2 separate regions of the Homo sapiens genome follow, and region 1 is linked to region 2. The links come from fine-mapping of genetic effects on gene expression. A gene starts in region 2. The other region holds a variant in brackets. All regions are shown on one strand. Distances are between the middles of the regions.

Region 1 (12,858 bases), 150 kb before region 2:
CAGTGAATACATTACCTTATATGACAATAGGGACTTTGCAGATGTGACTAGGTTAAGAACTCGAGATGGAAAAACTACGTTGTTTGTGCAGGTGGAGCCAATAATGTTCTCATAAGGTCCTTATGAGAGGGAACAGAGGGAGACACTCTGAGAAGGTATGATGACAGCAGCAGAGAGAGATTTGAGATGCTACAATTTGGGCTTTGAAGATAAAGGTCAATGAGCTCATAGCATGCAAGGAATGCAGCTCTAGAAGCTGGAAAAGGCAAGAAAACAGATTTTCCCCTACAGCCTCCAGAAAGAAGCAATCCTGCCAATACCTTGACTTTAGACCAGTAAACCTGATTTTGGACTTCTGGCCTCCAGAACCATAAAAGAATTAATTTTTGTTGTATTAAGACACTAAGTGTGTGGGAGTTTGTTACAGCAGCCATTGAAAACTAATACAAAGCCTTTGACAAGTTTTTTATTGTGAAATATTGGATCTAGAAAAAAGTACAAAATGTCAACAGTCAGATGTGTACAAGTACAGTATTTCAATAGTCTATACATGTGAACAGCTTAACAGGTTCACTGCAGAATGCATATTTAGACCAATATAATCTAAAAAGGACTGCAATATTCACAGGCTATTAATACATAAATAACTTGAGTCAAAATGACCCTTACTGGTAAATGCTAATTAATAGTGGAAAACAGGCTAAAAGCACAATACACCACACCATAGTATCTCCTTACAGGTCCACATTTAAAGAATATCAGTTTATTATGTCAAAACACTACAGAGATCCAGGACTGGGACTGAATTACTAATTTATACAATTGCAAAAAAATTTAAGTTATAAAATAAGGTCATGGAATAAAGAAGGGTATTTAATTAGGACTAAATACTGTGAAGCCCATGAAAGGGTTTTAGCCTTGGAATTTACAAAGCTAAATTATTAGACTGTTAATGTTAGCTAACACTAAAACTGAATTACCTTCCATTTTAATGTTAGCTAATATTAATATTCAACTTTTTAATTTTGATGTTAGCTAAGGGGAAGGACGAGGACAACTTTCTTTTGTAGTTTCTCCAACAAGGTGTAAGAACTATCAAAAAGTAAAACCATAATGACCACTGTGGACTGACAAATGGCTATGAAACAAGAATATAAAACATTACAAATTTCAAAGAAAGGTAATAACTATCTTATGAATTTAGCAAATCCTGCAAACGTTAAAATCCATGTTAAGGCATTATCTATCATGGTTGAGAGTACTAAATTTAAGAAAATTATTACATGAAGATCCCATAAAAATAAACTGGTTTAGTTTACAAGATTCTAACTGAATCTTTTTGTATCACTTGAAAATTACCCTATATTATGCTTTCAAAATGGACAAAGAATTATTTGGTATTCACTTTATAATGAACTATGAGAACAGTCTATTGAAACACGTCATGTTAAAAAAAAATTGTTTCAATCATGTGTTCTTAAGAAAGCCAATCTTTGATATGACATTCACAATCAATGCTTGTATAAAACAAAACCTTTAAAACTTATAAATTTAGTAACAGTTTTACATGAAGCAAATTTATCTTTGCCCATAAATTATTAAGAGAAGCAACTCACTCTATACAGTGTATCTAGCAATACTTTAAAATCAAACTAAAACTCTGAACTGATAATAACTAGGAGATAAATTCTATTTCAGGCTGAAAACCGCTGGATCAGAATATAGTCAATAACTTCATATAACCTATCCCACCCTACCTTAACCTTTTATAGACAATTTTAAAGACTTTAGGACAATTTACTTATAATGCCTGAATCTTATAGTAGATTCCAATTTATTCAAAGATTATCACAGATTGGATTAAAAAGATCATTTAATTTTTTTCAGATTTGCTTTAAATTTACAAATTACATTGTACATAAATATTAACTTAGATAACCACACATAGGGAAAGCAGATACATGGATCATTGCAGAAACATTAAAATTTTTAAAAAATTTTATAAAATATAAAGCAAAACATGTAACTCACACAATACTAATATGAAGCCACATGACATAAAAAATAAAATTACTCTTTAAGAAGCAACTTAAAATTAAATCTTTGGGGAACTATTTTGACATAATTAAATGAATTCAAAGACCAACAGCTTCCCTTATCACACAGAAACAAATCACAAAATTTTCTACAATCTATATGCATTATCAGTTAGTTCTAAATGTAATCTCAAACATTTTACTAGCAACTTTGATTTCCTTTTGAAATAGGCTTCTGTACATATGCATTTATATACAAACATTTATTAAACATGATTTTAAAACAAAATGTATGTACAAAAGATCAGCATTCCTATAAATAAAAACATTAGGTGGCAAAAAGGCACTTGTAAGTAAAAATCTACAGTAGTTTTTACAAAACAGAAACACATTTTACCTTAGATACTGTACAATAAACATTAATTCCTATACCAATAATGAAAATGCTAGGTTACTAATGTTAATGATGTAACTTTAAAAAACAAATTTACATATATCTGAAGTTCATTTAATAAAAGCACCGTGATTTTCTCCTAAATTCATCTTGATGCAAAGTAAAAACACAATTCCCAAAAAACCAGTGTTCGCCATTTTTCGAGTTTAAAAGTTTTTGTATTTCTAAATTGAAAACTGTTTGTCTGAAATTAGCATAGTGTAAAACAAAAACAAAACAAAAAAACCCTGCTGCTCTGACTTCTGAAACCATACCTACTCTATTATTGCATGTTGCGTTTCATAAAGAGCACTACTCATGCACTCCTTTACAACTGTTTAATACTATTGCTGGCAAAAAAGTTCCTGGATATCAAATAATTAAAAAGTTACTTCAAACCAGTTGAAGTTTTATTTGAATGTTTTACAACTTAAAAAATGCTGTATATCAATTACAAAAGTGAACAGGAAACACACCAATTCATTTGGTGTGCAAAAATATTTTTCTACTACACAGAATTTAAGGGCTTCACAGAATTTTTTTTCCCCAAATTTACATTGTAAGAAGAAATGCTAAACAAATGACTTTCTCAAGGAGATGTTAGTATGCTTCCACTTTTGTCAAATTTTTTACCCTTTGATAATGCTGCGACCTGTTTGAGTAGTTCTCTGTTTTTGGCCTGTGGGAGACAAAAACATTCAAGATTAAAAATGTTTGAAATATTATTAAGTCATGCTGAAGAATACTACTTATTTAATACTGTTTTCATTTATATAAATGTTTCACTAAAGCACTAACATTAAATGAAAGAGTTGATACCTTTACATTCATCTCTTTAAGGATGAACATGCAGAAGGAAAATTCTAGATTGGCTCATCAGCCCCCTTTGTATATGTCATTATTAATATAATTGTGTCCAAAGATGCACAATTGGTTACAAAAAAGGAAACAAAGTGAATCCACTTAAAAGAAGGTCCAAATTTTAATAGGGAAAAGGTGTTTGGCCCTTCATCTTAAAAACATGAAAACTATGAAAATAAGTTGTAATTTACAATTAATAAAATCAAAGAATGAATCAAGATTTGGGAGGAGTATTTCCTGGCAAGCTGTATAAGGTCTTTTTTCTATGTTTACTCTCTTGTAGAACAAGCATAAGAGGTCATTTTTGCAAAAACAACTCAGAATTTGTTACTTTGCCAAATGCACCCAATGATATTCAATTTTTTTTAAAGCACCCATCAGAACCACTCATTATCTTGTTGTTCCTTTAGTTACCAGTCATCTGACACTGATTTTAGTGTGGTTTGAGCAGTTCCACATCATCATTTCCTATCTCATGAAAGCTTGAATTTTTACAAAGATTCAAAATTTCATTTCATCATCTGACTTGAATTTCATTATTAAATGTCCATCCATCACTAGTTTAGTGAAGAGGAATGTGTAAGTACAGTGAATATTTTCACATTTTGACTGCCTTTGTCACCTTATTCAGTCTCTTAAATATGAAAACTTAGATAGTAAGGATCCCTATATATACAAATACATTAATGATCAAGCATTTTTGTAGTTTGAGCCAAAATGGGGAAAGTGATGAAAATAGAGCACTGCCCTAAAATTAACACATTTTAAAAAGATATCCTCTGACTTATGTTTCAACACCATTTTCCTTCACAGGTTCCAGGAATTTTTATTATATAGACAGACTTTTTTAATCTCAGTACTTCATATTTTATTCTAATTTTAGCTTTTTACGGGCAGATAACACTCTGCCTTCTCTGTATGCCATCTTAAAGTGGTTTCATGAAATAACCTTTTTCAAACTTTATTCTTCCATTCCCCCACCCTTCTTCTCCAATCACTCTTGCTAATTAACACCCATGACCTCTAAAATGCAAATATTCTCAGTACTATCTTATATGTGCAAATCAAATAATTTTTTATGTTCAGATGCATGATCAATAGAACTTTCCTATTCAGTGGTTATTAATAACTAAGGTGGTAACGAAAAACTTCAATTTCAAATTCAGTATCAATTTCAAATTTTGAGTCTGCAAATTTGACTCAAAAAGATCTCCACTAGATCTGTTAAGTTATATTTATCTAAAAATGTTTATACTGATACAAAATAGTTAAAATGTGAATCTCCAAGTTCTTATCTCAATTATCAAGAAATAAAGTGTTTATAATTTTCATATTTTAAGTACAAAATACAATAATTTGAACATTAGGTCTTCAAAGCAATTTTTCCATTTAATGCTTTGGTAGCTAATTTCCAATTTGCTTTTAATATATTTATATCACTAATAAAGATATTTCTTAATAAATTACATAAGACAAAAGTCTTTATGGTAAATAAATAACACAATTGTTAAGTACAAGTCCAAATTATTCTAATTTGAATACTTTAAAAATGAATTTTATGCCATATTTCAATATATGTACATTTAAATTGTTTTATCCTAAAATTACTTCATTTTGCAGCCAGCCAAAAAAAAAAAAAAAAATCAATGAAATTCTTTACAGACTCTTAAGAAAGCTAAGTTTTAAAGTTTAGACATGTTGGTGCAAAGGAAAGAATATCAGGATTAAGAATTACATAGATCCTGCTTTAAATCCTGGCTTACTTACCAGCTACATAACCTGGAGCATATTTTCTCATTTGTAACACAAACTCCACCATCCGAACTCAAAATGAGTTGAAGGAACTTATCAAATATATAAAACACTTAGCCTAACACAGTTCCTGGTACACAGAAGGCACTCAAATGTTAGGTCCCTTTTCCTTTTAACCACTTACCTAATTAAGTGAATAAGAGTTTTAACTTGATATTCTTAGTATTTTCAATATTTGGGGTATTTTGGGGTGACATTTTGAACAATTTTTTCAT[G/A]TGATGTTCAGTGTTTTGTCGTAGGTTTGGCAGTTAAAAATATTTTACTAGCTATTAGAGCAAGATCCATCTTGTGTCACAGGATTCAATTCCTTATTACATAAAGATAAAAAAAAAATTACCGGTTTCCTCACCTCAGTAAAGAATCCTACTAGTATCACTTGGTTGCTAAAGGAAGTGAGGTAAAAAGATGGCACTCAGCTATGACAGATTGTCTCTAGCCATAACACAAAAAAATCAGGGAAGTGGCCTGATAGGAAGGATGAAATAGAAAACCTGAGGAACCTGAAGTGGTGGGAACTAGTGTAGGACAGGGAAAAGTATAGATAAACTGGAGTGAGAAGACAGAGATTTCTACGTCACCGCTTACTGTGTGATCACAGTTTCCTCTGTAAAATGGGCATATCACATAACCCAGTTTTTGCAACAAGTAAGACAGCATATGTAAAATCATGTCAAAATGTCCTATTTAAATATTGGTTACTTTTATACTACATGAAACTTCAATTACCAAGAGGAGGTAGGCCTAAGATATCTATCAGGCTAAGTCAAAGATGACCCCATGTATTTGCAACTATGATTTTAAAAAAGAAAAACCAACACACAAACTGCTCTTTTGAACAGTGGGGAGCACTAAGTTAAAACATATCTGAGCACCTATTGCAGTTATTCTGTTATCTCATTCTGGATTTACTTCAGAGCTTTGGTTACATTACATTAAATCAAAGATCACCAGGTGGAAGATTTTGTTCCAGGTAATCATTCAGCATTAATAACTGAGTAAGAAAAACAGGAATAACATAAAATTAAAAATAATACTTGCTGGTGGATAAAAACATTGACTAATATATAAGAATCTGATATATGATACGGGCAATCTCTCAGAACAGAGGGCTGATGGGCATTTCCATAAATCACCACCTAGTCAACAAATTATTTGAATGCCTACTATGTCTCAGGTTCTACATGAGGTTCCTTTTTCAACAGTCTTTGTAATAGTATGATAGGGATTAAGACCAGATAATCTGTACCTCGAATTTGAGCAAGTTCCTAAATCCTACTAATTTAAGCTACTTGCAAAGAAGTATGAATAATACAAAACCAAAAGAAAGAAATAGCAAATATCCTTTGGTGTTACAATGTGAAAAAAAAAAAACAAAATGAAACAGGACAGTATTAACTCCTTCCTTCTGAAGCTGTACTCTCCCAAGTCTGACGTCTGTGTGCTGCCATCTTCCATTAACATTTAAAACTTCTTTCACCTTAAAAATTTTGTTACTAAAGACTAATTTTACAAATGTGAGACTGTATAAATCAAAGAGAACATGTAATTAATTTAGTGTGGTCTGATTTCTAAATGTATGAAACCTAGAAGAGAAGCAGCTTAATATGGTAGCATTCTGTATCCATGTTGGATGTTCACCATCTCTGCATGCCAGACATCAGATTATTACTGTGGTGACTCTTGACTTTACCATTCAGTTGTTCTGTATACTTAAACTGCTACTTTGCAGTACTCTGAGGTTCAGGTGGATCACTACCTGTTAGCATTTAGCAGAACCCTATTTGGCACTTTGCGAACCACTGTACACAGGTTAAGTAAACTCTCTTGCTTTGCACACATTTTTGCCACTCCAGGTCCTTAAGAATTGGTTTTATACACCCATCTCCTTTCCCATTATCTGGAAGGAAATATTAATGTGAGGAATGATTGCTACTGAAGACCTGCTTTTCACCTTAGTTTCATTAATCTGATTTTTAATTTTTTGCTATAAGCCCAATAATTAATTGAACACACTCCAATGATACCCTCCTCCAAAAACTCCATTTGAAGTTTAGGCAAAAGTTTTCAAGATTAAAGTACTGAATCCCCCTTTCAAGTAATTTCAAACAATAACTTCTAATGAGATCAAGATTAAAAATGATTATAAAGTCAAAATCAAAACTGAAATGCACCAACTATGCACAAAATAGGGCTACCAATAACAATCTAAGTCAATGAATGCTATTACTCAAGTTTAGCCCTTCTTGCCTATCATTTTACGTAAATGATGGTAGTTACCTGAAGTTGTTCCACAGTTTCTTTGTGGGCTTTTTCCATACTGTTCATTTTTGTTCTCAAATTTGACTCTTGGTACTGAAAGTCTGCCTTTAGTTCAGTTAACTGAGAGATTAAAGAAAAAATATATGTATATATTTGCACACATACACACACACACCATTTTAAATAACTTTCACAATAAACTCACATTTCATTACAAAAGTAGAAGATGTTAACTGCAGTTTCCTGAATTGTACAAGCTATCTAAAGTTTGTTTGGTGAAATGATGAAGTCTATCTGCTTCACAATAGTATAATTTTAATGTTAATACCTGACCATCAGTAAAACTTCTCAGTTTTCTTTTTTTCCTAAACATGGCTCGACTGGAAATAGAGTTTGGCAACTGGTATGCCAACGAAAAAAGCTTAACGGCTAATAACTGGGAAAATGCCTCATTTAAAAATGTACTTCAATAATAGTAAAAACAATATAAACATTTAAACTAGCTTATGCGTAAAATAATCTTTCAATGCTTAAAGAAAGAAATTTCACACTGGGTAATATAAAAAGGAATGGTCTTTTCAGCCAAAAGCTACACTGTTTTCATTTTTTAATTTATGTCCAGGATTATGTACACAATACCACCTAACACTTGAGGTAAAAATAGAGAACAAAGCACAGAAATACAACTAACACAGAATGAGAAAGGAAAGAAGGTTACTATAAAATTTGGGCTAAATTAGACAAATACAAGAAAAAAATCAGTGCTTTGAGGAAGAAGGCTACATGATAATTTTTCATAAATGACATACCTAACAGTATAATATCTCATGACTTCAAACTAAATAAGTTATTATGTAATTTCACTATTAGAACCATGCAGAGGGAACTCCAGGTTATTTTTTAATGTTTTTCATTATGCCAGCTTTAAAGGTTTACACATTCTCCTTTGTAATTACCCAGTATCTAATAAACTGAAAGACATACAACAGCAAAAATAGAGAAAATCATGGAGTCTTATAGTCTTATTAAAAAAAAAAACCCTTGCTTTTGTCAAATTCAAAGTATAACTAAGTTCTCTCTCTCTAACTTTCTCTAATCACAAAAGATTTTCTGTTCTGAAATGCCAACATACACCAGATCAGCTAAGACAATTACTCTATTCACTACACTGTGAGTTGCCTCCTCACTATGAACTTCTGGAAAATAAGAATTATGTCTTATTTATTCATCTTTGTATCCTCATGATCTAGTTCAGTGTCTGGCTCTAGAAATCATTAAATAACTTTGTGAAATCAATTCAGTAAAATAACTTCATCATCTTAGATTTATAAGAAAAAGTTGCAAATGTATAGTTATTTTAGGTTTACCATTAGGATTTTCCTTACAACAATGCTAATTTCAATCCCCATTAGTGTTGTGATTTTTTTAAAGAGGAACACTAACAAAAGCAGAAAACTTCAATTAACTGCACAATACAAAGATAGTACCTCTTATGCTAGAGAGGAAAGAAAAATCTAGCAGTCAATATTCTATAACTGATTACTACTTGGTTTTGAAATCATTGCTATTTTGCAGTAAAGTTGGCATTTTATTCAACTTTTCTCAAGGCTAATGCAGATATATCTGGCCTGTCTCTAAAACTTTGTACACAGGACAAATTTCCATAAAGGCTCATTAATTTAAAAAATGCTGTCAATCAAAAAGAACCATAAGACAAAGACACCCGTAACTATCCTATTTTATATGTCACTCCTAATTTTCATATACTAAATTTGCTTAAAGTAAGCTACAAATGTATTAAAATAAATTAAGCCCACTAACCATCAAGGTGTGGCAAAATGTATCAAAAATTACTGAATGCCAGAAGTAAAAGCCAACTCAGCACAGACTTAGAGATGGATATAAGTCATATATGTATTCATATTAAGGCCTTATTCTTTTAAAAGAAATGATTTTAGTGTTCTCCTACTGCATAATACATTTGATACAGGTCAAACTACATTGTCTGGGACCATAAAACAAGTACAAAAGATGATCAAACAGTAATAGCCCCTATGGGCACTTATACATACCAGGAGCTATAATAAATACTTTGCATTTTCATTAATCATCAAAACCATCACTTCAGATAATATTAATGCTCTCATTTAAATGAGAAAACTGAGGTCCAAAGAAGCACACATTCTGCTTTAGGTCACACAGAAAATGTTAGAACTAGGATTTGAATCTAAGTATGGCTAAATTACTTCAAAACTGTTTCCTGTTCCATGCCTGTCCACTATTGTGCCATCCTGATTTCATAGCACAAGACCTTAAATCCTTCTGTAATTCTGTTAATATTCCTCTTTTCACTAAATGAACAACACATTTTAATATTCCTCTTCATTTAACTGATGAAGTCCCAATAAGTACACTTACTTCCTACACAATGAGCTTTTAGACATCTATTGCTAATTACTATTACTGACTACTACAGGAAATTCCCATACCATTACTTTTCAGCAGTATTTTGATCTGGATTGATACAAATATATGACTGGATTGATACAAATATATGAATGTTATATCAAAGACTGTTCAAACTACATTCTTAAATCAAAAAAGTTTATGAAATATTCCATTTACATCTCATTTTTAATTAGGTATTAGATCTATTTTTAAATTACATGCTTACTGAAAATTAAAGTTTGGAAATTACTATCCTAATTAAGCCTCAGTTAATTCTTAGAACTAAAAATCTGAAAGACCATTTTTACCCATCTTCATTAGATGGCTTCAGGGGCTTTTGTAATTTGTCTTATAAAAATCACGCACAACAAACATTACCAAATTATTAAAGGAAGTCTAATAAAATTTGCGATTATCAAGCAACAGTCAACACATAACTCTTACCAGGCTTCAATGAACCATGTTCTTACCTTTTTATCTTTTTCTAAAATGGTCTGGTCTCTCTGCTGTAAGAGACGCTTAAGTGACATCACTTCTTCTTTCAATTGACTTATAAGGACAAAATTGTCTGTTCCCCCACTATCTGCTGACTGATTTATAGAGCTACTAAAAAGAAAAAAGTAAAACACAGTTAAATGAAGTAGAAGGAAAATTAGCAGGTGTTCAAATTGCATAAATTAGACAATTCCACAAACATCCTTAAGGCTAATGCAAAAAAATATGTACCTGACAGAAATGGATGCAACTGGCAAATTACCTTACTAATGGCACACATTACATACACCTGCAGAAATATAATTCAGTATTAGCTTTAAGGGGGTCAATACTTCTAGTGTAAAGCAATAGGCAGCCAATTTGTACAGTAACATCAGCAAACTTTTGGCTAATGAACTAAAACAAAGTAACGCTCATAATATTTTTAATCTAAAAACATTTTCTAAGCAGGTCAATTTAAAATATCACAATTAGATTTGTGTTTCACTGAAGAATAAAGATAAAAATAATGTTCTCCATTCAAATTTGTTTCTTCAAAACCCAAATTTATTTCCCAAATAGAACAACATAGTTCAGTGCCACTTTCTTATTGCCAAAATTAAGCTAAAAATTTTAAACTAATTTATGTTTATTCTTCTAGGTGACTCAAGTCAATGTAGAAAATACATGTTTCTATTTTTTTATCTAGTAATAACTGGCATTCAACCATAACTATTCAACTAAGTTGAATTTTCATAACACTAAAAGAATTCATTTTTACCTATCTCCATTAGATGGCTTAGATTCCAATTTGGGCTTTTTCTTTGGAGTTTCATTCTGAATTGTTGCAGAGGATTTATGGCTGAAACCAAACATTAATAAGAATAGTTAGAGTAAAAAGGACAGAGAAACCAAATGATAAGTTATTCATCTTCCCCTAAAATATTACTGAAAATACTGATTTTGGTAAGACTTAAGTAACAAAGTTGAAGGGATATCACATTTATAAATATACATTTCAAAATACTTCAGAAAATACAGCAATGTATTTACCTCTGTTTCCACAGTCCCTGCTCTTCTTCTGGACTTAGATTGCTGATTCTGAAAAATACACAAATGACATCTAATAATGACATTTATTTATTTAATACATCTAAATTTAACATTCTTTCTCAATGGATACAAATTTTATGTTTATAATATTTTCTTCAGAGAAAGGTATATTTAAGTTTTCAGACTAAGCTAATACATATTGAATAAATCACATTCTGATGAAATAAATTTTAATAAAATGACTGCTAACCATCTCAAGTTCTTCAAGAATTCTTTATAATCAGGATCTCCACAGTTCAATTTAATATCATACAAAGGGTGGGTTACACAAGTAGTTTTCGTGCTTGTGTCTAGGTATCACTGTACTTTGGCTGCCCTTACTATTTCAGACACAAAATTTGTATCTTTAAAGTTAAGGCTTTCCTAATAATCTGAAGTAGAGATTCTTCTTTTGGAGTAACTCAAGTTGCTCAGAATAGTATTTCAATTTAAATGGGGAAATATATTGATTTCTTTGATTCTTTCCTAGTTTTCTTAAGAATCCTCTCCAAAGTCCATAGAGCTCTCTTTAGTTAGTATTCTGGAGAAGTTACGCTGAAACTATTGAGAAATTTCATAGTAACAAATTATTTTACTTTTACTCATAATTAATACTGTAATACTCCTTTTCTATTTTACCCTAATACTAATAATCACTTTATAATTCATCATGAATCCTTCATTTTTTTCCTCCTAAACTTGCATATCAGTCAATGCTTCACTAACCCTAGCTTATTCACTCAGCATGTAGAGAGCATCTCCTATGAACCAGATGCCACGTATTTATACGATTTAGAAGATGTTAGAATACCTGAGCTGTGACCTTATGCAAATTACTTAACATCCCCAGCCTTAGTTCCCTCATATGTAATACATACCTTATACTGATATGAGCATTAAATGAGTTATATATGTAAAATCACTTAGTACAGTGCTAGCATATACAAAATAGACATATATATATATACATGTTTACTTGTGTCTAAAATTTACTATTGGTTCAGCTGTAGAAGTTTTTTAAGCAAAAGAAAAAAACAAACCTTAAGACTCAGCTGTAAACAAGTACCAAGTTGGGAAAAAAATGTTAATAGCAATAATTCCATCAAGTGAGTTATTCTTACTTGTGAATGAATGGAAATCCTATTGAGGAATGCAGTTGTCCCTTTTTTTTTTTTCCCACAAATTTCATTATAAGCCTAACAAGCCATACATGAACTAACAGCACTAACCATATCTCAAAGTTAAGAATAATCACATTAATATCACTGACAGAAACACTTGGAATTCCCATCTTATCTTTCTGAGGGTTGTCCATTCCTAGATTCAGACCCACCTTAGTGCCACCTGGCAACCACATCCCCTACCCCTGCCGATCACTATCTATCACAATATGAATGCTCCTCATTTTCATTCTGATCTATTGAACTTAAGATAGGACCCTAC
Region 2 (12,858 bases):
GTTGCACATGCTGAGGAGGAAAAGGAGGGGTTGGTCTTGCTGTGTCAGGGGTGGCAGAAGCAGAAGAAAATCCACATAAAAGTGGATCTGAACAGTTCACACCCATGTGGTTCGAGGGTCAACTGTACTTTTTTTAAAAATGCTTGTTTCCACTAATCTTTCTCACTAAGAATCTATTTTTAAGAAAAAGCCTAAAACGCATATTCTTGTTTTATGTTACTCAAAGAAAAATGCCTTAGGAAATTTCCTAGAAATCAAATCTAATAAATCGACAAGAGATGACTTTTACCTTTTACTACTTTAGTCAACATTTTTACAAAAATGCTCTCAAGTAATAGTTTTACAGTACTTCTAACATAGACCTTAACTTAGTTTTAACTAATGTTGATTGCATTACAAAAGGCACCAATTAGCAAAAGATCCAAGGCAGTGGTTCTCAAACTTCAGCATCCATCGGGATCACCTGGAAAGCTTGCTAAAACACCAACAGCTGGGCTCCACCCCTAAAATGTTAATTCAGTTAGGTCCAAGGTAGGGCCCAAGAATTTGCATTTTTAACAAATCCCAAAGAGATACTGATGCTACTGGCCTGGAGACCAAACTTTGAGAACTACTGGTCTACACTAATAGGAAATTATTGATAATAGCATAAAAAGGAAAAATACAGATATATACGGGACCCAGTCTCAGGTTCACTATCAACTTGCATTCTTCAAATATGTGCTTTCTGAAAAGCTACATAATTACTATGTCAGACCAATATTGTTTCTTATCTAAGAGAACTTAGATCTTTGAGGGTTTTTAAGTAATGAAATCCAAATAAGTAATTTTTAGTCTAATATGTTCAATGTTTGATACAAGGTACTACTAATAATGCCAAGGTTGTAGGTTCAATCTGGTAGCTTTACTCTGTTTTACAGCTATAATTTCTACCTCTAATCTTGCCAGCTGTCTCAGCAGACATGCCAAGAGTGACAAAGGGAATGGGTAAAAATGTGTGATTGTACACAAATCCATCACCACTACTAGAAAAACAACATAAAAGCATATTTCCTACCAACATATCACTTTTTTTTCTTGAGACGGGGTCTCACTGTCTTGCCCAGGCCAGAATACAGTGGCACTATCACAACCCACTGCAGCCTCAACGTTCCCAGGCTCAGGTGATCCTCTCACACCAGCCTCCCAAGTATCTGGGACTACAGGCATGCACTACCATGCCCAGCTAACTTTTTATTTTTTGCAGAGACAGTGTTCTGCCATGTGACCCTGGCTGGTCTGGAATTTCTGGACTCAAGCAATCCCAAACTGTTCAGCCTCCTAAACTGCTAGGATTACAGGCGTTAGCTACTGCACCTGGCCTCCAACACGTCACTCTTAAGTGACCTTGAGGCTAAAACTAAAGATGAGACCTTGCAACAAAATGTGTTTTAGAAATCTAGGAAACTCCTCTACTTCTTCAGGCTATAAGTATAATCAAAATCCATGGAAACAGAAATCTAGGAATTCCTGTTTTCAAATGATGATAATTTTAAGGCAGGCATGCAATTTATAAATGCAATTAGTTGAGAACTACTTTGAGTATGTGTACCCCCCCTTTGATTTTTTTAATGGAAGTTAAATGTAAATATAAGATGCTCATCAATGCTAATGAAATTATATACTACAAATTGATAAAACCAAATAATCTGGGATAAACAAGTATGGTACCCAGAATAACTAAAGCCTGAGGTTATATGAAGGATGACAAGAACACACATTAATTAAAACGACTAACAACACAAGTTAGAGCAAAAGGGGCAAAAGTAATCAAGAGTAGCAGATGGATAAATAGGTAGTTGAAGAGGACATAATAACCTCATTGTGTGTAGGACTGGGCACAGAACAGTAAAATCAGCTCAAGATGTCCAGTCTCCCATAAAAATAACTTCAGCTTAGACCTGAAATTGCAAGTGTTCAGGCCAAATTCAACAGAAGGAATCCTTTTTAATCCTTTGAATGGGAACAACAAACAAGACCAGTGGTGAACATTCCGTCAACATTCTTTTATTTAGATGTTCACTCAGCACCTATTCGGCACTAGATATCTTACCATTTGATTATGCACAATACAAACTAATCAAAGAAACCCACTAAAGCAGTGCATTTTATAATAGTGTATAAACTGAAAAATGGAAAACCAGACTAAGATGGCAGATTATTACCAATATAATGTCAAATTCTGCTGTGTAACTCATTACAGTTCTGAGACTCAAGCCTACTCTTATTATCACATCTGACCTACAGTATTATTTTACCTATATCTTATAAAGTCATACTTATATCAAGAATCAGAGCACACCCAACAAAAGTAAAATTACAGAATATAACTAGATTATTAGGATGCTAAAGTGAAGTTTTCCACAACTCCCTCTCTCTTTCTGTGGGGATAGATATACATGAAGAATGGCCAACAGCAAGATATACAAGAGTTGCTGAACAGTTTACTGAAGTATGGCAATATTAAGCAGGACTCACCAAAGACAACTATTGTTTTTTTTGTTTTTGTTTGAGATGGAGTCTCACTCTATTGCCCACTCTGGAGTGCAGTGGTGCGTTCTTGGCTCACTGCAACCTTGGCCTCCCAGGTTCAAGTAATTCTGGTACCTCAGCCTCCCAAGTAGTTAGGGTTACAGGTGCGTGCCACCACGCCCAGCTGACGATTACTTTTTTTTTTTTTTTTTTAAAGATGCAGGATGACATAACTATAGCTGGTTAGGAAACTACTACCTGGATATCATATGAAGAATGAAATTGCCCTTTTGTGGGCAAAAGCATCAGATCTATGATGACCTAGAAGGCATAACTGGAGACAAGAGAACTCTGAAATGACTACAGATACTTAGTAAGACTCATCACATGTTTATTGTGAACTACAGATTGCACAACAGCCTGTAATCCAACTTCAATGGAGTATGTCATTTTCATTTTTTAAAATATTTTTACTTATTTTAAAAAGTCTTTCTTTTTTAGAGATGGGGCCTCACTATGTTGCCCAGGCTGGTCTCAAACCCCTAGGCTCAAGTGATCCTCCCACCTTGGCCTCCCAAGTGCTGAGATTACAGGCATGAGCCATGGCACTCGGCCAAGTATGTCATTTTCAAAAAACAATGGGCAACCACATGGATTAGTGTATCATCCTTCCTACTTCCCAAAAGGGCTTCAGACATCTAATCAATACATTTAAACATAACACATAATATTTAACTTGAGTTCATGTAATAATAAAAGTACTTAAAGAAATTAGAGATGAGTATATTACCACCTTCAGATATAAATTTGACTAAAGTTTTACTAAGCTAAAGAGAAAGACGCAGTTATATAGTTACCACTTACTAACAAACAAGGAGCATACATAATTTTTTCTATAAATAATTTTCTTTGTAGCTAAACTCAGCAGAAATTTATGTTAATGCATGTGTGAAAAACATTCTGTGACACATTTAACAATATTAACTATTATTCTGCCAGAGATATCAAAACAAATTCCAAAGGCAGTTTCCCAATTAGGCCTCTGTATAAAAACAGAAAGCATAAAAATAAACTACAATTTAAGGGAATCATTTCTGCAAAAACTGAGATAATATAGGCCAAACAGCAATAATTTTGCTTTGTCAAAGGCTAATGAAACAAAAGAAATAACTTAAACAATCTAGATAGACACTTAACATAGCTATGAGACCAAAGCAGGCCACACTGGCAATGTATTAGAGTCACCTGCGATGAAGTGTTAGCCTAGATTGTTTAAAATTAAGCTTTCTAACTAGTGTCTATAATGTATCTATTACATACTGTTGATTAAGGAGAGTGCCACAAACAGGTATGATGATTAATGAAATAAAAGATACATAGAATTTAGCAGGGAAACTTCCATACAGTAGACATTAAGTAAATGTTACTTTTCTACCTTCCAGAGGAGAGTAATGAAAGCTGGCATTCTCTTATGGAAAATAGGAATCATACTTATATTTTTGTCCAGAGAGGATTAGGCTAATCTACTATATCACAATTCTCTCGAGGAGTACTTAATTTTCTCAAATTTGTCAGTAACATAATTTTTTATAGAGAAGTTCATATACATATATAATCTTTATACTTGCTGGGCTTTCTGTTTTAGGAAATAAATATGTTCAAGTGGCACCGTTAGGTATATTAGTTTGTAATAATAAAGGACACTTATTTCGTGTAATTGCAAAAATCCAAAACAAAGGTTATTTGCAAAGGAATTATCTTTAAAATTAATATCAATGCATTCATCTTAGTATTGTCATTAAAATTTTAAAAATGACAATGTTAGAGTTCCAAGGGACCTTACAGATTTTCTAGATCAAGCTTCTTATTTTAAAAGATGAGAAAACTGTAGACTAGAAAGTCTAAATGAAAAGACCAAAGAGCTAGCTCAGCCAGAGACTTCAGCATGGGAGCTTCCTAACTTCCAGTACTTCCTTCTTTCTAACATACTGTGCTGCTTCATGTGGTTCTAACTTCTCTGCCTTGGATGAGAGTACTGGTTGCCTCTTATGCTATTCTGAGGCATAGTTGTCATTTGTAACTTTCCCATAAAATTCGAATTTTCCAACCTGTTTTCTGAATGAATTACACAACTGAACATGTTAATCCTCAGCTTTCCAAATTTCAAAGCAATAAATACAGAATTCAAAAAATACTTGATTCAAACGTGCAATATATATAATCAAACTGCAAAGAAAAATCCTCCTTTCCTGGATAATTCAGGCTACAAATTCGAAAAAAAAAAAACCATTTAGTGAGCACCTATCACATGCTGAGACTATGTTAAGTGCTGGAGATATGAAGATGATTAAGATTGCCCTCAAGTATAATAGCTTATAACCTGGTAGAAAAGGCACTTTAAGCCAACAATTATAGTGTGCTTATTAAAGACTCTGAAAAACGACTGTGCAGGGAGCTATGAGTGCATATGGCAATGTAGAATGACGGGATCAGACAGTGGTTCCCCAGTGAGGTGCTGAACATCAACAGGAAAAAAGGCAATAACTACCCATATTTAGCAGAATCCAAAATGAATTATAATAGAGCCACTTCAACTGATTGAAGGAGAAAATGAAAATTGTGTGTTTTCACACAGCAGTTATCGAATCACTCTCTAATAACAATTAGACTATTATTCAGTGGAAAAGAACCAGATTTCATCGTGGCTGCATAAAAAGCAAATACAGGTCTTATATTATTTTTTAAAAAATTTTTAAATCATTATTTTAAAATCAAAGAAAAAGACTGCATCCAAAACGCGTCTAGTTAATATTCATAAAAGCTCTCTGCAAAGCTGCATAAAGTCCTCCTCAAAATTCCAGGATAAAATTCCCATCTGTTACAAGAGAAATGACAACGTGGAGAACCAGTAGCCCAAGAAGGAAGAAAACTACCACTCATTTTGTTTTCTTAAACCTATCACTGGGGATAAAAACCACTCAGATTCCTTGATACTGACTTTCAGCTGGAAGATTTAGAAAAGAGAAGCACAGGAGACATTTTTATTTACATATTTAAGCAAAAAGGGAGGCGAGAAGAAAATCAGAGTGTAGAGAAAAGCATGAAAGAAATTAAGAAGGTGAAGCCATGAAAAGAGAGAAAAGGGCTGGGCAAGAACCCAAAAACCAAAGACATAAGAAGGGGTGGAGGAGGAAAGACTGACTTTAGGATGGTTTTGGAAAAAGTGACAGAGAAAGACAGGAAATGTGGGGAAAAGAATGGGGGCGGGGGGAACTGTCTTAAAAAAGGTTTGAGAGGGAATGAAAGACAGGAGAAAGTAATTAACTGGGACCACCTCCATCGGGGAGAAAACGAGATCGGAATATGAAAGGTAGAGGAATCGATAAAGAAGCAGCGAGTTTTAACCTCCTTTTCCTCAGCCTCCACGCCCCAGGGAGGGAGGCAGAAGTGGTTCCCAAGTCCCGGGGAAGGAATTCCGGCGTAGCCTTCAGAAACCAGAATCCGCGAATTGGGGCAACAATCCAGCAGGTCCCCGGCCCCTCTCCATCCCCTTCGGACGCTGGGCGGGGCCCTGGGCGTCCTGGTTACCTGGACAAGGAGTCCACGCTGGGCGGCCGAGCCGCCGCCGGCTGGGAGCCAAGACTCTCGCAGCTCGAGCTCTTCTCCATCGCGCGGCAGGGGCAGCACAGGGAAAGGCTGAAGCAGTCTTCGCGGCTACAGGGCGGGAGAAGCGGAGGGCGGAGTGCTACGGACCGGGGCCGCAGTCAGGCCAGCGCCGGCCCGGGAGGGAGACCGGAAGCGGCCATGTTCCCCCAGAGTGCACCGCGCCTGTAGGCTGCTGGGCAGCGGGAAGACCCCACTGCGCAGCTCAGACGCCGGCATCGACTCTCCGTGCTGGCTGTGTCCGGCCGCGCGACATCTGGTCTTGGGGAAAGGGAGGTGGCGGCTCCCAGGGTGAGGGGGTCTGGTGAAGCGGGAGGGATGAAGGACCAGACCCTTATGGAAGGAGGAGAAATCCTAGGTGTAAGAGGAATGAGGGAACACTAAACATGAGGGTCTCAGGAAGGCGATAAGGACCTGAGGCCAGGAGGATGATTTAGACAGGAATGTGGGGGTCAAGGAAAACAAGAGGACCGGATAATGAGAGAAAAGTGAGAAAGAGGTATGGGAGAGGGATTGGGGAGGATCTGATATACATGCAAAAAGAATTATATACTACTGGATGCGGTGGTGTTGGATTACCCAAGTAGAAGACAAACTTTCACCGATTTTTCCCTGCCCTTTCAAATTCCCGTGCCTAGCAGGAAGGGAGTGTGGAGGAATAGAACTGTGATAAGAGAACAGGAACTGGGTAAAGGGGAAATGCTTCTGCTAGGATTTTTCTGTTAGGATACAGGAAAGCCATAAGGACACCATAAAGGGATTTTTCTGATTGAGATTGAATCCTAATCATCTCATGTATGGGGTGTAAAATTATGCAAAGATTATTCCTGTAAAAAAAAAATCAGACCATCCTTAAAAAACTTCCTTGCTAGGATAAATTGAATTATATTGATTTAAACTAGATTTAATTTATAATGTACAACTGATGTCTTTTAAAAAACCTTATAGTTGCAGTGCAGTATTAACTTGCAAGTACATTCCCAAGAAGAACAACCTAGCTTAGTTATGTTCAGTGTAAGGTAGAATAGTTACTGATGAGTATGTGTTTAAGCACAAAAGGCTTAGCCTTTTTTGAGTTTGGCGAGGACAGACAGCGACCGATTGTTTTTATTTCCATAATTTTTAAGATACCTTAACTGGACTCTGTAGGCAAAGGGAGTAGGTAGTCAAAAACATTTTTTAACAAGCTTAAATATCTATCATGACTCATAGAAGAATTTCCTTATTTCTTCACCATCTCTACCTGCCTTCCAAAATGCTGACTCACTGTCAGCTACTTTGACTTAAATTTCCTTAGTGAAGGCTGATGAACCCTTGAATGGGAGACCTATGTACTTTCTTCCACCCAGTTCATTCGTAGCACTTTGTTAATAGAACCCTCGAAACCTTCTGCCTGATGTAACAATATGTGTATGGTTCTATCTAGTGATTAATAAAGAACAGTGTAGTAAAAGTGTAGAGACTTTGGAACCAGACAGATCTTCATCGGAATCCCGGTTCTGTCTCTACACTTGCTCTGTGCTGTGGTTAAGTTGTTTCACATCTCTAAAATGGGAATAAAATGGGAATAAAAATATCTACGTAATAGGTTGTTTTTCTCTGTGCAGAGTCGGTTGCACAGTACGGTCTCACTAAGTAGATTTATTATTACTTGTTTTTCCACTGAACTTACTGCTTGACTTCTAACCTGACTGGTAAAATGGTAACTTCTCAGAGTGAAAACACAAGCAAAGAATATCAGCTGGAAATTAATTAGTGAACTCTAATTAATTAATGAACTCTAAGAAAATGAAAAAACATGGTTAACTTGGGACCTCACCAAAAGTTATTAATTTTTCAATTTATAATCTGGGCTGTTTTTTCTCAAACTATCTGCAAGAAGGAACAGTGTTTTGTTTTTAATTTTCAAACCATCACCAACCAAAACTTTTTTAAAATATAAGAAAAATTAATCACAGTTGGTTCCATATCCTCAGATTCAACCAACCACAGATTGAAAAATTTGTAAAAATTGTAAAAAACAAAATAATACAAATAGAAGACAATACAGTATAACAACTATTTACATAACATTTACATTGTATTAGATATTATAAGTAATCTAGAGTTGATTTAAAGTATACAGGAGGGTATGCATAGGTTATATGTAGACACTAATGCCATTTTATTTAAGAGACTTGAGCATCTTTAGCTTTTACTATCCTTGGGGGTCCTGAAACCAATAACCTGCAGATACTAAGGGATAACTGCACTAGGAAAATTAAAGAAAAAGGTTTGCAAAATACAAGGCCAAATTGTTTATTAGATTTAACAGATATTACTCCTTGAAAGTTTCGTGAAAGTTCCTAAACACTTATTCTCAATATTGCGTTGATCTCATCATAGACTGACAACAGTTCATGTATGGGTACTACACCAAAAAACCATTGAGATCTCATAAATTAATAAAGTTGCAGAATACAAAATCCACATCCAAAATTAGTTTGCATTTCTATGCATCTATAATGGCCAAAAAAGAAATCAAGAAGGCAATCCCATTTACAAAAACTGCAAAACAAAAACAAACAAACAAAAACCAGGAATAAGTTTAACCAAGGAAATGAAAGACCTCTACAAGAAAAACTATAAAACTCTGATAAAGGAAATTGAAGAAGATGCAAATAAATGGAAAGACATTTCATGCTCATGGAACAGAACAATTAACATTGTTAAAATAACCATACTACCCAAAGCAATCTACAAATTCAATGTCTATCAAAATATCAGTGTCATTTTTCACAAAAAAAGAAGAAAAATTCTAAAATTCACATGAAACTAAAAAAGAGCCTGAATAGCCAAAGCAATCCTGAGCAAAAAGAACAAAGCTGGAGGCATCAGACTATCTGACTTCAAAATATAAATAAACATAAGGCTATACCAACAGCAGCGTATGGTATAAAAACAAACACACATACCAAAGGAACATAAGAGAGAATCCAGAAATAAACACATGCATTTACAGCCAACTGATTTTGGACAGACATCAAGAAAACACACTGGGGAAAGGACAATCTCTTCAATAAATGGTGCTAGAAATATTGGATATCCATATTCAGAAGAATAAAACTGGACCCCTGTATCTTACCACATACACAAATCAACTTAAGATGGATTAAAGACTAAAATGTAACACCCAAAGCTGTAAAATAACTACAATAAAATACAAGGGAACTACTTCAGGACTTTAGGCAATGATTTTACAGCTAAAACCTCAAAAGCACAAGTAACAAAAACACAAATAGACAAATGGGACTATATTAAAGTAAAAAGCTTCTGCACAGTAAAGGAAACAATCTACAAGGTGAAGAGACAACTTGTTGAATGGCAGAGAATATTTGCAAACTATTTATCTGACAAGGGAGTAATATTTAGAATATATAATGAACTAAAATATCTGAACAGTAAAAAAAAAAAAAAAGAAAAAAATCCCATTAAAAAATAGGCAGGCTAAGCGTGTGGCTCATGCCTGTAATCCCAGCACTTTGGGAGGCTGAGGTGGGCAGATCACTTGAGGTCAGGAGTTCGAGACCAGCCTGGCCAAAATGATGAAACCCCATCTCTACTAAAAAATATAAAAATTAGGTGGGCATGGTGGCATGTGCCTGTAATCCCAGCTACTCAGGAGGCTGAGGCAGGAGAATTGCTTGCACCCAGGAGGCAGAGGTTGCAGTGAGCCAAGATCATACCACTGCACTCCAGCCTGGATGACAGAGTGAGACTCCATCTCAAATAAAAAGGCAAAGGGCCAGGTGAGGTGGCTCACACCTGTAATCCCAGCACTTTGGGAGGCTGTGGTGGGTGGATCGCCTAAGGTCAGGGGTTCGAGACCAGACTGGCCAACATGGCAAAAACCCATCTCTACCAAAAATAAAAATAAAAATAAAATAGCTGGGTGTGGTTATGGGTGCCTGTAATCCCAGCTTCTGGAGACTGAGGCAGGAGAATCGCTTGAACCCAGGAGGCCAAGGTTGCAGTGAGCCTAGATCACGCCACTGCACTTCAGCCTGGGAGACAGAGTGAGACTTCGTCTCAAAGAAACAAAGGGCAAAGGACATAAACAGATGTTTCTCAAAGGAAGACACAAGAATAGCCAAAAGGTATATGAAAAAATGCTCAACATCACTAATTATCAGGACAATGTAAGTCAAAACCACAGTGAGATATCACCTTATCCCAGTCAGAATGACTGTTATCAAAGAGACAAAAAATAACAGATGCTGGTGAGGATGTGGAGAAAAGGGAACTATTATACTCTGTTGGTGGGAATGTAAATTAGTACGGCCAGTATGGAAAATAGTCTGGAGATTTCTGAAAAAAACTAAAAATAGAACTACCGTATGATCCAGCATACCCATTACTGGGTATTTATTCAAAGGAAAAGAAATTAGTTATCAAAAAGATACCTGCACCCCATGTTTATTTTGCAGCACTATTCACAGTAACGAAGATATGGAACCAACCTACATGCCCATCAATGGTCGAATGAATAAAGAAAATATATATACGCAATGAAATATAAAAAAAGAATGAAATCATGTCATTAGCAGCAACATAAATAGAATTACAGGTCATTATGTAAAGTGAAATAAGCTAGGCACAGAAAGACAAAAGTCATGTGTTATCTCTCATACATGGGAGCTCAAAAAGTCAATCTCATGGAAGTAGAGAGTAGAATGAAGGACACCAGAGGCTAGGAAGGGTGTGTAGAGGAAGGATGAGGAGAGGTTGGTTATTGAGTACAAAGATACAGTTAGATAGAAGAAATAAGTTATAGACTGGGCGCAGTGGGTCATGTAATTTTATCGCTTTGGGAGGACAAGGCGGGTGGATCACTTGAGGTCAGGAGTTCAAGACCAGCCTGGCGAAAATGGTGAAATCCCATCTCCACTAAAAATACGAAGATTAGTCAGATGTGGTGGCAGGCACCTGTAATCCCAGCTACTCAGGAGGCAGAGGCAGGAGAATTGCTTGAACCCGGGAGGCAGTTGCGTAAGCCAAGATTGCACCACTGCACTCCAGCCTGGATGATAGAATGAGACTTCATCTCAAAAAAAAAAAAAGTTCTAACATTCAATAACAGAATATGATGTCTATAGTTAACAAGAATGTACAGTATATTTCAAAATAGCTAAAGCAGAGGACTTGAAATGTTCTCAACACATAGAAATAATAAATACTCAAGGTGATGGATTCCCTAAATACTCTGACTTGGTCATTACATATTCTGTGCATGCAACAAAATATCACATGTGCCCCATAGATATGTACAAATATTATATATCAAAATGAAAAGAAGAGAGAAAATGAAAATAATAAACATTGAATGACCAAGAAGATATAATTAAAATAGATTGAACATCATAGAATAATTTTATGGACATCTTTACACCAAACGCTTATAATCTTAAATAAATAAATATTTTGAAACAGAGACATGCCAAAATTTGCTAAATAAGAAACAGAAAAAAATAGAAGTTAAAAAAAATCAAAAACCTCTCCCTCAAATATTTTTATGGATAAAGTCTAACAGATTTTGAAGAAATTAAGGAACAGAAAAATAAAGCTGCTGAATCAATTTTATGAGGTCTGTTTCCCATAGGCCTTTCCTTTGTGAACATTTATAAACACAAGTGAAATCCTAAATGAAATATTACTTAAAATAGGGTGATGTCAACAAGACGCCAGACTAGGAAGATGCAGGCTCTTCTGGCCACACAGATGATGACTTTAAAACAATGTACAAGCTGGGCACAATGACTCACCCCTGTAACCCCAGAATTTGGGGGCCTAAAATGGGCGGATCGCTTAAGCCCAAGAGTTTGAGTCCAGCCTGGGCAACATGGTGAAACCCCATCTCTTCAAAATATACAAAAGCTAGGTGGGTGTGGTGGCATGTGCCTGTAGTCCCAGCTACTTGGGAGGCTGTGATGGCAGGATCCCTTGAGCCCAGGAGGTCAATGCTGCAATGAGCCGTGATTAAGCCACTGCACTCCATCCTGGGTGACAGAATGAGACCCTGTCTAAGAAAGAAAGAAAAAAAAAAAGTACAGGACAATCTGTGTGAGAAGTTAAAGCATGTTAAACCAAGAAAGTATTCTAGAGAAAGAGGTAGAAAAACTTATGGCATTTGGCATACCTGTTTATCGTCCTTTCCCTAGATGGCATATCATGAAGGAATGGGTGGGGGGAACACTCCACACTTCTTATCAGGGCTTTTTCCTGTGGATGAAAGCAGAAAAGGGGACTTTAAATAAAATGTTTTGGCTTTTCTGGGGCTGCCCAAGGGACTGGTTTTGGTCTTGCCAGACTCTGAGCACTGATGGTATTGATACCAGAGCTTGGAGCCTATAATAAAGGAGAGCAGCTTATTATAGCCCCATTTCTACAGGCAGACACCAAAAGAAGCAGGAGATCAGAAAATATCTTGGAGGTCATAGAACTTCCAGCCCAGGTGATTAGTAAAAGTCCTCTCTTGCACAAAACTAGTACACAAAGACTGGGAGAGGTGTTTTTTTTTTTTTTTTTTTCAAATCCTGTCAAAAAAGTTACATGTCATACAAAGAAAGGGTAAAACATGGCCCAACCAAAGAAATAAATACAATTCCAGAAACAAGCCCTAAAGAAATTCAGATTTATGAACTGCCC

The links.
Region 1: its variant is fine-mapped to the expression of MTMR2 in lung (TOPMed, PIP 0.98).

Annotation. Positions count from the first base shown.
Region 1 is chr11:95,768,503-95,781,360 of GRCh38, forward strand. FAM76B (family with sequence similarity 76 member B) reads right to left here. Exons shown (of 10, transcript NM_144664.5): 6 at 11,377-11,424; 7 at 11,105-11,185; 8 at 10,320-10,455; 9 at 7,420-7,521; 10 at 451-3,148. The coding sequence ends at 3,059. Among named protein-coding and RNA genes, the nearest start is that of FAM76B, 15 kb to the right of the region's middle. The variant G/A (reference allele first, on the strand shown) is at 5,358.
Region 2 is chr11:95,917,776-95,930,633 of GRCh38, forward strand. It overlaps MTMR2 (myotubularin related protein 2), which reads right to left and starts at 6,332. Exons shown (of 15, transcript NM_016156.6): 1 at 6,100-6,332. The coding sequence starts at 6,179. RefSeq lists enhancers at 6,310-6,359, 6,420-6,549.